Linked DNA regions of Homo sapiens. The protein of the gene in region 4 purifies or fractionates together with the protein of the main gene of each other region. This does not show direct contact. Each region holds a gene or a part of one and is shown on either strand. Other genes may lie near its edges. The genes, in order: ZNG1B, MCCC1, CYP24A1 and CBR4.

Region 1 (3,570 bases), on a different chromosome or scaffold from region 4:
TGTAAGGTTTTTCTCTTTTTTGATAGTCATTTATTTTTTTTATAAGGTTGAACACTTAGAAATATGACCAATGACAGATTAAATTCAGAATAATCATTTTTTACATATGAGACTTTCATGCACTAGAGATTAAATAAGCCCTGACATCAAAAGCAATAAAAACTCAATAAAAGGACCAAAACATTAGAGCAGATAGAAAAGACAGCAAGAAACACTTTAAGAAAATGCTTCCTAATAAGTTTATTTTCTATTTGTTTGAAAATACAATGAAGCAAACTGTGTAAATTCAGTTAAATTACTCAAGAAAATTAAAGCTGGAAATATAATCAATAAACATTTCTAGTAAACCATGTACACAGTAAACACATTCCTCACTTCACTGAACAGCAGAGGCAACCGTTTCTAAGTTCCAGCCACTCTTCATAGAGCTCTCCACCTTGGCTGACAGCTAAGGATTTCTCCAGCGCACTTCCTAGAATAATTAACAAACAGCACTCTTTAGCTTATGTCCATTAGCCAACAAAAAACAAAGATGAGGATAACTCAATAATGGAGATCTTAAAGCAGAAACTGCATTTTATAACTTATATTCTTTCATTTTATTCATGCAGCCTCGATATCTAAATTACAGTACACTACATTATGTTAGCTTTTATTTAAGATGACTTAAGCCCTGAAAAAGACACATCCTAAACTGATAAACATACCTACTTCCTCCTTAGGCCTCTTACTTGGCCACCCCCATTTCTTAATAAAGTAGCTATCTTGAAGGCATTTTTTTCTTGTCCAGGGTAAACTTTCTAAATAGACTAGTATGTTTTATATACTGGATTTTGTATGCCCTTCAACCTCTTAAGAGACTGCCTTATCTATCTTTTTCTTTTCATTCTTCTTCTAAATTGTTTCTGTTAGACAAACTGCTGAATATTCCCAATGAGTAAAAACCCTAGTTCATCTTGAGGAAGGTTTTTGGCCAGTGTACCATGTGCTCATTTAAAAATTAAACTTACAGGGAGGCCAAGGCGGGCGGATCACGAGGTCAGGAGATCGAGACCATCCTCGCTAACACAATGAAACCTCATCTCTACTAAAATTACAAAAAATTAGCCAGGTGTGGTAGCGGGCGCCTGTAGTCCCAGCTACTCAGGCGGCTGAGGCAGGAGAATGGCGTGAACCCGGGAGGCGGAGGTTGCAGTGACCCGAGACTGTGCCACTGCACTCCAGCCTGGGCAACACAGCGAGACTCCATCTCAAAAAAAAAAAAAACCTAAACTTTTAGTCAAATTCACATATTTTCCTAGCAATACTTACTTAAGAAAGAATAAACTATATTTGAAATGCTTGTTATCTATAAGAATTATTTTAAATGTTTTACTTTTCCTCTAATAAAGAAATATACCAAACGGTGAAGTTCTAAAAGCCCACTAAGCAAATGAGCTCCCATAAAATCGAGTAGTTTTACACTTACGTATTTTTTATATTTCAGCTAGGTATTAATAAAGAGCTTCTAAAGAGGTTGCTACAGAATTCGGACTATATACAGAACATTAAGGAAACATGAAGAAAAGTATTGAGAATGCTGTGAAAAATAAAATTGCGAAAATGATCCAGGAAAAAATAAAGAAAATAGTAAGAATAAATGTAATCAGTGTGCAATAGGTTATTTAATAAGATGATAAAAAAACAGTCTGTTATTAGAAATCTCAGGATTTTTGCCTAAAAAGCACTTTTCTCTTTAGTTTATTAAAACCAGAAATCGAATATAACTGGCTTCCCATCCTGTTCATAAAACCTAGCTCTTTTACTTTTTACAACTGAAAAAAAATAGTACATTTTAAAAGAAATCATTTAATAGATATTGTTTTTTGGCTAGAAGTGAGCTTTGATTACAATTCATACTTATGAAGAAAAACTTCTATAAAGATAACAGAAGTATTGTGTCTAGAGCTATTTTTTTGACTACAGTTTAATATTTCAGTTGAGAAGTTAAGCACACTTATTTTCACAGATAACTTAAAATACATGAGGATAAAGACCATATGTTTACCTTTATTTTTAAAATATTGAGTTTTAACTGCATTGCAGATAATAAACATTAAACAAAGTTAACTAATAACAGAAGCATTTTCAAGTATTTTTCATGAGTTGCAATAGAGTCCATACAAAAGTGCCTTCCTAATTCCTAAAAAAAACATTTTTTGGCCAGGCATGGTGCCTCATGCCTGTAATCCCAGCAACTTTGGGAGGCCGAGGCAGGTGGATCACAAGGCCAGGAGCTCAAGACCATCCTGGCCAACATGGTGAAACCCTGTCTCTACTAAAAATACAAAAATTATCTGGGCATGGTGGCGCACGCCTGTAGTCCCAGCTACTCGGGAGGCTGAGGCAGGAGAATCACTTTAACCCAGGAGACAGAGGTGGCAGTGAGCTGAGATTGCACCACTGCACTCCAGCCTGGCGACAGAGAGAGACTCCATCTCAAAAAAAATAAAATAAAATAAAAAATAAACGTTTTTTCATATGTCTAGATTTTTACTTCTGGAGTCATTTATTTCATGTAAAAATGTAGTTTAATTCTGTTAATAAGAATTCCAAAGTTATACAAAATAAAATTTTATTAAAACTAATTTCAGTATCTCAACCCATATAAATCTTAACAGAAATTAATCCAACTTTTCTAAAGCTATCCACATCAATACAATACCTTGCATTTTCATTTTTAAATATGGAATAGCAATTCACCAGAGGAATAAACAGTCACACAAAATCTTGCAACATGACATTTATTGAACTTTACTTACCTTCCCCAAATTCATTTAAAATGACCGCTACTCTTTTACTATGTTGCTCTGTCAAAATATAGTTCAGAAGTGTTGTCTTCCCAGCACCTATAAAACATATTTTTTGTAAATAAAAAAATTCAAAATAATTTTAAAGATACAAAAAACATATAAAGAATCCTAACGTTTTTGAGAATTTGCGTGCTATTTTTCATATATTATTTTAGTATAGAATATCCTAGAGGATAAGATTAAAGCATCCTTTGAAACCTGTTGCAAAATACTTTATGTAGACATAAAATTTTATAAATATTTACAAACACTCCTACAAGTTGAAACAGTTTCTTCAACCTAGCCTAACCTTCCCTAAAATTTACACACAATCTTTTATTTATAATGACCTTTTATTTCAACATTAACAAGACGCAACTTCAGGCTGACTATATGGCTACTTATAGTATGCTTTAAACAATCTATAAAAGTTTTTATGAAATGGGGAATAGAGCCAGGTAGTGTCAACAATGGACAGAATGTTCAGTAAGATAAATTCATAAAGCTATACCAACTTTATCCAGCAGGTGGCATATAAAACCCAATATGTCAATCTCCAGTAGAAAAAAAATAGTCTTGTGAACCGTACACACTAAAATTCATAGAGGAAAAAAAGAAAATCCTAACTGCATAGTATTGTAGTTCAATTGTATGACTATATCATTTCTTTATCTTTTTTTTTTGTTGGACATTTGGTTTGTTTCCAGTGTTTTACTATTACAGTGCTGCTAAAAACTTT
Region 2 (3,570 bases), on a different chromosome or scaffold from region 4:
AAGTTACCCTATATGGTCTAAAAAGGGGAGGCAAGAATACTCCACCCCTTGTTTAGCATATCATCAAGAAATAACCATAAAAATGGCAACCAGCAGCCCTTGGGGCTGCTCTGTCTATGGAGTAGCCATTCTTTATTCCTTTACTTTCTTAATAAACTTGCTTTCAATTAAAAAGAAGTTATTACTAGAAATACAGAATAGAAATAGAGTCACACAATGTGCCACACAATGACATTCCATCAATGCCAGACTGCATATAGGATGGTGATTTCATAAGATTATGATAGAGCTGAAAAATTCCTATCATTTAGTGACATAATAGCACAATACATTACCTTTCCTATGTTTTGAGATGTTTAGATACACAAATACTTACCATTGTGTTACAAATGCCTACAGTATTCAATACAGTAACGTTTGTACAGGTTTGTAGCTCAGGAGCAATAGGCTATACCATAGCTTAGGTGTGTAGTTGACTATACTATCTCAGTTTGTGTAAGGACACTCTATGATGTGTGCACAACAATGAAATTGCCTAACAATGCATTTCTCAGAATGTATCTCTGTCATTAAGCAACACATGACTGTATATAAGAATATTAATAATAATTAGGAGAATACAATTATGGGTTGTTTTCCATCTTCTGCATTTTCCAAAAATTTGTAATGTATTCATATTACTTCTATAGTTCAAAAAATATTACTGATGCCTATTACAAGGAAAGTAGTATGCCAGGCAATATATACAAAAAATAAAAATGTATATACTACCAGGTCTTTGATTCCCAGGGGCTTTCCAGCTATTGGGGGAATAAATTATAATGTGACGCAATGTATGGCTAACATTTCATAAGTAAAGAACTTACATATTCAAAAAATGCTGCAGGCATGGAGTTACATAATAACTCAAATAAGCTATTGATGTCTCTGAAATAAGTTACTGAAATAAGCTATTGATGTCTCCACAATTCTAACTTAAGAGCATGCTGATTTGGATGGCTAGCCTATTCTTTCTTGAAAGGAAGCCTTCAATGTACCTTAGAAATGCCCCCCCCTTTTTTTTTGCCTTAATTGAATTTCATTTACTATGCCATGCTCAGGACAGTTGTTTTATAGGGCCTGAAACAAAAAACAATTTGGGGGTCTTCTCTAAGGAGAAGAATACAAAACTGCAAATACAAAATTAGGTCAGGGTCTTGGAAGAGATTAATGTCAAAGAAGGGCCTGAAGTTTCAAGTCTGTTACCTTCAAGGTAAATCTCTTTCCAGTCATGGTTCCCAAATAAATTATTCTTTTCACTTGACTTACAGGTCACACACATATATATATAAAATTTAACAATTGTCATAAAAATCTATGAAATGAGAAACTTTATAATCAGCATCTTAAACAACAAACATGAAAATAAAATTCCAGAAAAAAAAATAGGGATTCACACTGCATTTGCTATAGTGGTACCCAGAGAAGTAGCTTAGTGCAGTGGCTTAGATATGAACTCTGGAGTCAAAGTGCCTGGGTTCAAATCTCAGCTTTACTACTTAACAGCTGAGTGACCTCAGAAAAGTAACACAACACAACCATTCTGTTGCTTAGTGTCCTCACCTGTAAAATGAAAACAGTACTTACCTAATGAGGTTGTTGTAAGAATTATATTAGAATTAGAAGGACAGCAAGATTATTTAGCATGTGTAAAATATTTAAAATCTGGCACATGGTAAGTGCAATGTAAGTGTTAGCTCCTATTAACAGCATATCACTTGTAATTCAATTTAGAAAATTACTTCCATTTCCTGAGCATCTCAACTGACAGAGTTCTATAAATATAGCTGAATTTATTACAATAATTTGCTAATATTGAAAAAAAACCCTAAATTTCATCAACAAGAAACATACTGAATGAATTAATGGTATATCAAGATCATAGAACCGCTAGGTCACCAACAAAAAGAATGAGGCTGATCTACAATTACTGACATGGAAAGATGTCTGTGATATAATATTAGTGTATAAGATTCTATTCACTGGCCGGGCACAGTGGCTCACGCCTGTAATCCCAGCACTTTGGGAGGCTGAGGCAGGTGGATCACGAGGTCAGGAGTTTGAGACCTGCCTGACCAACATGGGAAAACCCCATCTCTACTAAAAACACAAAAATTAGCCAGGCATGGTGGGGCATACCTGTAATTCCAGCTACTTAGGAGGCTGAGGCAGGACAATCGCTTGAACTCGGGAGGCAGAGGTTGCAATGAGCCGAGATCGTGCCACTGCACTCCAGCCTGGGCAACTGAATGAGAGACTCCGTCCAAAAAAAAAAAAAAATTCTATTCACTGTTCTTAGGTATGTATTTTGTTTGCTGTATGTATATGTATATAGGTTTCTATTCACATAGAAAATGGCTGGAAGAATGCATACCATCCTACAATCAGTGGTTACATCACAGGACAGAACTGGGAAACTTGTAATAATATACTTATATACTACTACAGTTTTATATTTTATAGAATGTGCATGCATTATTTTTATAATTTAATTTTTAAACTCTGAGTCAGAAAAATAAGGCCAACCCACCTCGGTGTGTCTACAAACTTCTCGATCAGCATAGCATCATCATTGAAAGACTTCTTAGCTTCTCTCCGTGCTGACTCTAACTGTTCTTGAAATTCTTGTTCTGATCTAACAATCCTCATTCCCTAAGAGAGAAAAGATGATTATGACTACAACATAAATAAAACAAAGAAGACAAGCCTGAATTGGCAAACACAAGCATGCACAATCTTACTTTTCCTCCTCCACCCCGGACGGCTTTAATCATGACAGGATAGCCAATTCTCCTGGCGTGTTCCTTCAGGCACTGGTCTGATTGGTCCTCACCATGATAACCCTCCACAACAGGTACTCCAGCAGCAGCCATTATGGATTTGGATGTGCTTTAGAGTGGGAAAGAAAACAACATGCCCCAAATTCTACAAATTATTTCATTCAAGACAAACATAAATATAGCCCAGTCTATAAATTACAATGGAACTCTTTAAAGAAAACATCGAGTCTGAGACGACAAAATAATACAAATTTAATATGTCTATTAGTTAGTTTCCCTCATTTCATGTGGTAGCTCATCTCACCCTATTTTTTAATCCCAAAATACTAATATATTGATTAGAAACATTAAGTATTTTCTGTAACTCAATAGAATTTCTCTATGTCACAGATAAATAACTTATGCCTATGACAACAGAAGGGTAGAATTAAAATATTATAGGTAAAACAAACTATTTCTTTTTTTTTTTTAGAGACAGGGTCTCACAATGTTGCCCATGCCAGAGTGCAGTGGTGCAATTATACTTCACTACAGCCTTAAACTTCTGAGCTCAAGTGATCCTTCTGCCTCAGCCTCCTAAGCAGCTGGGACTACAGGTGTGTGTCACCATACCCAGCTGAATTTTTTTTTTTTTTTTTGAGATGGGGTCTTACTCTGTCACCCAGACTGAAGTATGATGGTGTGATCACAGCTCACTGCAGCCTTGATCTCCTGGGCTCAAGCAATCCTCCCACCTCAGCCTCCCAAGATG
Region 3 (4,219 bases), on a different chromosome or scaffold from region 4:
TTACAATGTTATCTCATTTAATTCTCACAGCAAACCCGTGGGGTGGGAACTGTTACTCCCATTTTGTAGATGGGGAAACTGAGGCTTAGGGAAGGTAAGTGGTATATAGCCAGGTCTCATAGCCAGGGAGTGGAAAGCTGGGGTTCAAATCCAGGGCTGTAGAATACCAAAGTCCACACTCTCCATTGCTCCCTCATTGTGATATGACTTTAAAAGAGGGTGGAGGAGGGAGAAATAAGGGTTTGGTGGGGAGGAGGCTGTAGGAAGGAATGGAGAGAAAGAGAAGACCCCCACTTTGAATCACCCGAATTGCATTCTTTTTTCCTTTGTTCTTTGTAGCTGTGACTTGAAGCTCCACCAATATCCCTATGTCCCCACGAGCCCCAGGAAAGCTGGCCCCAGCCTGCAGACCTCATTGATTTTGTTGTCCAGCTTCATCACTTCCCCTGGTTTCATTAGTTTCTTTTGAAAGGCACTCCGGACCCGCTGCCAGTCTTCCCCTTCCCTGTGAGAGAAGCAGGAATACATTTAGAGCACACTGAAAAGAAAAGAAGGAGATGCAGAAATACTCCAGCTGCAACTTCAGGAACCATAAAATCAAACAAACACTGAGAATCATGCCAAGAAATAGCCAGAGAATATTAGCATCAGAATATTTGGGATAAAATAGTGATCATCTTTTGACAATAGTTTGACAATAGGATGAAAAAGCACCTTTCCTCCTAGTCAAAGATTGCACCAAAAAGTTGAAGTCCAGATAATTTGGGTTCAGGGATTTTGAGGTGTCCTTGCAGGGAGTGGGGCTGGGAGGCCTGGGGACAATTCCTAGCGGTAAAAGGGGGCATGTGAACACCCCATCACCAGCAACTCAGATCTGTTTGAGGGAAGAATCTTGTCTTCTTTCAACTCATTGGTGTGGGCTTCATATTTACAAAATATCTCAGATTTAGAATTTTGCCATCGCCTCCAAATAATAACATACAGTCAGAGAGTCACTGGAGTAATAAAAAGCCTTTTGCGATCGTGCACTTGTAGGCACCTGCCCCATAGCAGACCATACAGCCTGTGAAGCACCGTGAATTAATAGGGTTTTTAATTCCAGTCATTATATCCTGGAAAATATAACGATTAGGCATTACAGTTTGGGGGTAAATAAAGGTGCTAACTTGTTAAATGCTAACAACTAAAAAGCAGAAGAATCACATCCCATAGTAGCATTTGTCGACCTAAAACACAACTTTGATATCCCTCCTTATTCCACCTTTACAAGTAGAAATAAGGCATGTCCCCCAATCCTCTGCAGAAAATGTCACTGTAAAAAGCCAAAGAGGCTAACTCCTCGCTTTTGAGCTTACAAGGTGTTTCAGGGAGTTTTAAGGGATAATTTTGTTTGTATAAGATGTTTGCCTGGTACGCTGACTTCAGAACCTCATCCTGCCCAAGAGTCTGAACACCACAGTTGGTACAACCCTGTTTTGGCGTTTCTTTGATGGGAGGGTGTGGCCCTGCCCTGTTGCCAGAGAGAACGCAGGTGCTGGGTGCACAGCACGGCTTTTCCGTGGACCGACTCTAATCTGTACAAGAGCTCAGGGTTGCGATGGCACGGGAGAGGGGCTTTGGTATCCGCCCTACGTAAGAAGCTTCCAACCCCAGGGAACTCTAACTCCGCCTCTTCACAATTTCCAGGCGCCGTCAGGCTCATCAGGTCTGGCCGCATGCCCAGGTCCCTCGGATTGGACTCACAGGATCAGCAGCCCGTAGCCTTCTTTGCGGTAGTCGCGATAGGCCTTCCACGGTTTGATCTCCAGCCGCTGCGGGTACGCGCTCTCGGTGCGGTACAGCGCTTCCAGCAGGCATGGCGAGCCCAGGTGCACCGACTCAAAGGAACCCAACTTCATGCGGAAAATCTTGCCATACTTCTTGTGGTACTCCACCTGCAGCCGGCCGGGCACAGCGCGGTGTCAGCGCGCATCCTCCGCCGTGCCCGAAGCGCTTTCCCTCCTCCCGCCTCCTTCCTCCTAGGGGACCGGGGACCCTCCCTGCCCAGACGCCGAAGCGCACCATGCGCCCGAGGCGCGCATGTCGGGGAGGGTTTGGAGCGCCACTGGGAGGGCGGAAGAGGGAGGAGAGAGTCAGGGGCGCGAAAAGGGGTTTACCAGGGTGTCGTGCTGTTTCTTGAGACCCCCTTTCCAGAGAATCTGCAGCAGGCTGCCCAGCAGTGGCCAGCTGGTGGGGCCCGGCAGGGCGGCCGCGTTCTGAGTCTCGCCACCAGCTGTCAGCGGGCAGACTGGCACCTCTCGCGGCTGAGGGGACGTGTACGCCGTAGATGTCACCAGTCTCGGGGGCTGCCTCGGACTGCGCAGCTGCTGCAGGAAGGCGGCAAGCGAGCGGCTCTTGCTGATGGGGGAGCTCATGGCAGCGGGGGACACCGGAGCGCGGGAAGGCAGGAGGATGGGGTGGGGCGAGGTTGGTACGAGGTGCTAGTGGGAGTCGGGGCTTAACGATTCTGGGAAAAGGAAGCAAAGAGGGCCAGCTGGTGTGATGGAGCGGGGTGAGGCGGGACAGGCAGCAGAAAGGACCTCGGCGAGGATGCTCGACGCTGCACCACGCGACAGCCTCAGAGCATTGGTGCCTCCTTGCACTGGCCGCAGGGGCTGGAAGAGGGTGGCCGGTGTCTGGGGACCTCTTGAAAAGGGAAAGCTGGGAGTCCTCCTGTTGGTCCGCAAGGCTGACCTCTAGGGTCTGGCTGGAGCCACGGGGAGGTGTCAAGGAGGGTAGATGAGATGCTGCTGGCGCTGCGTTTCCTCCTGTCCCTCTCCATGTTCCTATGCCCAGGGACCATGCATTTATGGAGACAGAGCATGCCCTGGGTGGCCAATGAGCACGCAGAGGAGGGCGGAGTGGCCCCCGGCTGGCCAGACTCCGAGGGACGCGGGACCCAGGGGAGGGGGGGTGGAAGGAGGATGGAGTCAGCGAGGTGAGCGAGGGCGTCCGGGCCTGGGGTGACCGGGGCTATGTTCGCTGGGCGCGGGAGGTGGGGTGGGGGCGGCAGACTCCACCCCGGAGATAACCCCCAGGAAGTCATGCGAAGCCCGGAGTTCACCGGGTGTGCTTCGAACGCGCCTCCCCGCCCTCCCCCGGCGGGCAGGAGCCGGCAGCGGCGGCCGTGGTTGCCGCCCGGCGCTTGCACAATCGCGATGCCGGGCGGGCGAGGTCCCCGAGTGCGGGCCCAGAAAAGCTGCCGGCGTCTGCCAGGGCCCCGGGGAGCCCGGGCGCCTCCCGGGGAGCCAGATACCCCCAGCCTGGACTGAAGTGATTTTTTTTTTTTTTTTGCCTTTTTTTTTTTGGAGGAAGTTTGGCTTTCTGCGCCTCCCAGGGTGGGGAGGATTTGAGTCTTACTGAAATGCACCAGAAGAGGAGACTTTCTTAACTTGAGCAAGAAGGGGAGTTTGTAGAATTTCCTTCCTGCTGTTTCATGTTTGGTTGTTTTGCAGATTAAATGAATTAATGCACGTAAAGCGGCAACAACGAAGCCTTGTCTATAGTCAACAGTCAATAAAAGTTAGTTGCTGTTGTTACTTCTTTAGGAAGTTAGGAAATGCGCCTTGAGAGCGTGGCTTGCACCAACGATGCTTGAATTCAGGCTGGGCCACCTCCCCTATGTCCACTGCCCGCCTCTGTTCTTCTACACCGACTACCTTGTGCAAAGGAGGGGCACACAGAGCTTGAAACCACCGCCCCCAGTACTCCCCCTCTCCCCCAAGGTGCGTCCTAGGCAGGTCCAGTGACAAACATACACAATTTCTAGAGTTACCGCGGCTGGCAAGAGTAGAACTCGCTTTGCTAATTCAGGAACGGAAGTTGGAGATTTTTGTTGATTGTTTTAAAGTGGCTCGAATCCTTTCAACCTGATCCAATACAAAACTACCACCAGCCAGGGAGGAGGGGAGGGACATTCTGTTTCCTCGCCCTGCTTTTCAATTACGTGTCTCAGTCATTTTTGCCCCAAGTGTTGGCAAATCCTTCCCTGGTAAATTCTTTTGTAAGCCTCTAGTTTGTTTCTTAAAAATCTTTTGCAGTCCAACTTAAGCTTTAACACCATCATTTCTGATTTGTCTGGAGGGGCTAATGACTGTTTATGTTAATAAAAATAATAGCTATTGATATATACTAAACTTTATGAATCTTGTACATATTTATATATACATTGTATGGTATA
Region 4 (3,153 bases):
GAGCCTAGATCGCACCACTGCATTCCAGCCTGGTGACAGAGTGAGACTCTTGTCTCAAAAAAAAAAAAAAAAGGAAAATACATGTGTCTAAAGACAGAAAACTTTGGACAGCGAGAACCCCCATGATATTGTTCTTAAGCTGATTGGATTGCCTGTTGATTATTGTGGCTCTTCACTGTAAATTAAGTTTCATTTATAGTTTGTTGGAAATTCTGCAGAGGCTAGTATCAATATCTGTGTTAGCTGCTTCTCCTTTTATTCTTGCATTCCTTCTGGCCTTCTCATTCTTCTTAAAGATGAGAGGATATGAAGGAAATATTGCTGACTTTTAAAATAAATGTGGTAAGATGTTATGGCAGAGAAGACTGTATTTCACTGTGTAATTTCACAGTGAAACATACATAATACAAAATTAGTTTTGTTATTCCAGGCCTTCATTACAGACTATCTGAAGGTAGTACTGTGTGCATTTTTTCAACAACTTTTTATCTGAATACAAAAATAATATATATATCTGTTGTAGACAGTTTGGAAAGAGCAGAAAAATATAAAGAAAATAAAAATCATTACCTGTAATTCTAGTATCTAATGATAATCACTGTTAATATTTTGGTATATAGTACTTTTTTCAGTCATTAGTATAAGTTCTTTGTTGTGTTTTTAATAGTGGTATAACTTAATTCATTTGTAACCTACATTTTATACACAAATGTTACTTTCAGATTTAAGTATCCTTCTATAGCATAATTTTTATTTTTTATTTTTATCTTATTCATTTATTTGTATAAATACAAATGAATGCAGGTGCAGATGCAGTTTGGTTATATGCATAGATTTCATAGTGGGAAGTCAGGGCTTTTAGGGTATCTGTCACCTGAATAACACCCATTGTACCTATTAGGTAATTTCTTATTCACCTCTGTCCCACCCTCTCACCCTTCTGAATCTCCATTGTGATCACATCCATGTGTACACATTCTTTAGCTCCCAGTTACAAGTGAGAACATATAGCATTATTTTTAATACCTGCATTATTCTGTTGTATGGCTGTATCATAACTTATTTAACCAGTTTCTTATTGAAAGACATTCAGCTTGTTTCAGTTTTTTCCTAATGAAAGTGTCATTCATAAGCTTCATGATAGACAAATCTGTGAATATTTTTCACAAGACTTTTAAGAAAATGCGTAGATATTTATAACTGCAAACCTAAAGAAAGGAAAGTTAAGTAATTACATAGTATTGCATAATAAACCAATGGCCTAATGTTAATTCTTAATTCATTGTTTACTTCACATTTATTATGGTACTTTAAAAGGTAATATATTTAGGTTTATCTATAGTTTGAGCTATAAATGATTTAGTTTTAACAGGCAATTTGAAAACTGTATTTTTGAGATTGCACATTAAATGTTTACTTCACACGTCATGTTGAAGTTTTAGTCCATCTATTTTTCATGACCTTAAAAATTTTTTTCTATTCTTTTCATGAGGATTAATATTGCTTTCTTTTTAAAAACCCAAATGATTGAGTAATATACAGGATACTGATTATATGGGCTAAGCATTTTATTAATACGTATTTGTATGTCCTGTATTAATCTTGTAAGATTTTCTTCATAAGTCTACAGTTCTCCCTGGTATGTATTTGTAGTTATTTAGGATTGGTTGGTTATATATTATGTAGTTAGTTCTTTATACTGTAGAACCTAATACATTCTTTAGAACATTTTCTTGGCAGGCTTTACTGAATTTGAATTTTCTATGTTTACTTGTATCAGAATTGGATATGACCGTAAGATTTTAAAATCCAGATATGGGAAATACTGGCCTTTCTAATCATCAGCTACCAAATCAGTTCATGTGACCACTTTTGTGATGCCTTCCTTCCCTTGACACTACTTTCTACTTTTCTATCCCTACCTAAGTGAAAATTAATGTATTCTATGATATTTTATATATACTTCTATCAGGATATTCACCAGACTTCTTTACGTTATAATCGGGTGTGCAAGTGACCATTTCCTCCACAAATCATAGGTTCCCCAAAGAGTGGAATTTTGTTTTATTCATGTTTGTGTCTACCTACTTATATTTTGCTAGGTGGGCCAGATACTTGGGGGTCAGATATTTTAGTGTCCAATAAATATTCATTGAGTTAAATTGTATAAAAATGTAGGCTTGGTGTCTTGATTACTAACAAAACTATTTTGTTTTGTTTTGCTTTTTTTGAGATGGAGTTTCACTCTTGTCGCTGAGGCTGGAGTGCAGTGACACAATCTCGGCTCACTCCAACCTCCACCTCCCAGGTTCAAGCGATTCTCCTGCCTCAGCCTCCTGAGTAGCTGGGATTACAGGCGTCCACCACCACCCCCAGCTAATTTTTTGTATTTTTAGTAGAGACGGGGTTTCACCATGTTGGGCAGGCTGGTCTCGAACTCCTGCCCTCAGGTGATCTGCCCACCTCGGCCTCCCAAAGTGCTGGGATTACAGTCATGAGCCACTGCACCTGGCCAACAAAACTATTTTATATAAACAAGGTTTATTAATAATTTCAAATTATAGGGTGGGTATGGTGGCTCATGCCTGTAATCCCAGCACTTTGGGAGGCTGAGGTGGGCCGATCCCTTGAGTCCAGAAGTTTGAGATCAGCCTGGCCCAACTCTACAAAAAGTACAAAAACTAGCCAGGTGTGGTGGTGCATGCCTATAGTCCCAGCTACTTGGGAGGCTGAGGCAAGAGGATCACCTGTGCCCCAGAGGTCCAGGCTGCAGTGAGTCGTGTTTGCACCACTGCATTCTAGCTTGGGTGACAGAGTGAGACCCTGTCTCAAAAAAAAATTTTTTTTTAAATAATTTCAAATTAAAATTTTCAGAAACAAATTTATTATTTTTTTTGAAATTCAGCAGATGTCTTAGTGTGTACCCTTTTCAACTAAACAAACATTTCTCTTTTAGGATTTGTACACACAGATATGACGAAAGACTTGAAAGAAGAACATTTAAAGAAAAATATTCCTCTTGGGAGGTTTGGAGAAACTATTGAGGTGGCACATGCGGTTGTGTTTCTTTTAGAATCACCGTATATTACAGGGCATGTTCTGGTAGTGGATGGGGGATTACAACTCATTTTGTAATTTGCAGATTATTCAGTT

Evidence for each region.
Region 1: the proteins of CBR4 (region 4) and ZNG1B purify together in Homo sapiens (affinity purification with mass spectrometry; one large-scale study listed by BioGRID and IntAct). This does not show direct contact.
Region 2: the proteins of CBR4 (region 4) and MCCC1 purify together in Homo sapiens (affinity purification with mass spectrometry; one large-scale study listed by BioGRID and IntAct). This does not show direct contact.
Region 3: the proteins of CBR4 (region 4) and CYP24A1 purify together in Homo sapiens (affinity purification with mass spectrometry; one large-scale study listed by BioGRID and IntAct). This does not show direct contact.

What each region holds. Positions count from the first base shown.
Region 1 is NC_000002.12:113,440,669-113,444,238, reverse strand, and holds part of ZNG1B (zinc-regulated GTPase metalloprotein activator 1B), read right to left. Parts: intron 2,889-3,570; coding exon 2,802-2,888; intron 473-2,801; coding exon 376-472; intron 1-375. UniProt on the Homo sapiens protein: Zinc chaperone that directly transfers zinc cofactor to target metalloproteins, thereby activating them.
Region 2 is NC_000003.12:183,068,430-183,071,999, forward strand, and holds part of MCCC1 (methylcrotonoyl-CoA carboxylase subunit alpha, mitochondrial isoform 1 precursor), read right to left. Parts: intron 2,929-3,570; coding exon 2,781-2,928; intron 2,692-2,780; coding exon 2,570-2,691; intron 1-2,569.
Region 3 is NC_000020.11:54,171,166-54,175,384, forward strand, and holds the start of CYP24A1 (1,25-dihydroxyvitamin D(3) 24-hydroxylase, mitochondrial isoform 1 precursor), read right to left. Parts: upstream 2,822-4,219; 5' UTR 2,415-2,821; coding exon 2,157-2,414; intron 1,935-2,156; coding exon 1,744-1,934; intron 506-1,743; coding exon 412-505; intron 1-411.
Region 4 is NC_000004.12:168,990,132-168,993,284, reverse strand, and holds part of CBR4 (3-oxoacyl-[acyl-carrier-protein] reductase), read left to right. Parts: intron 1-2,956; coding exon 2,957-3,135; 3' UTR 3,136-3,153. UniProt on the Homo sapiens protein: Component of the heterotetramer complex KAR (3-ketoacyl-[acyl carrier protein] reductase or 3-ketoacyl-[ACP] reductase) that forms part of the mitochondrial fatty acid synthase (mtFAS).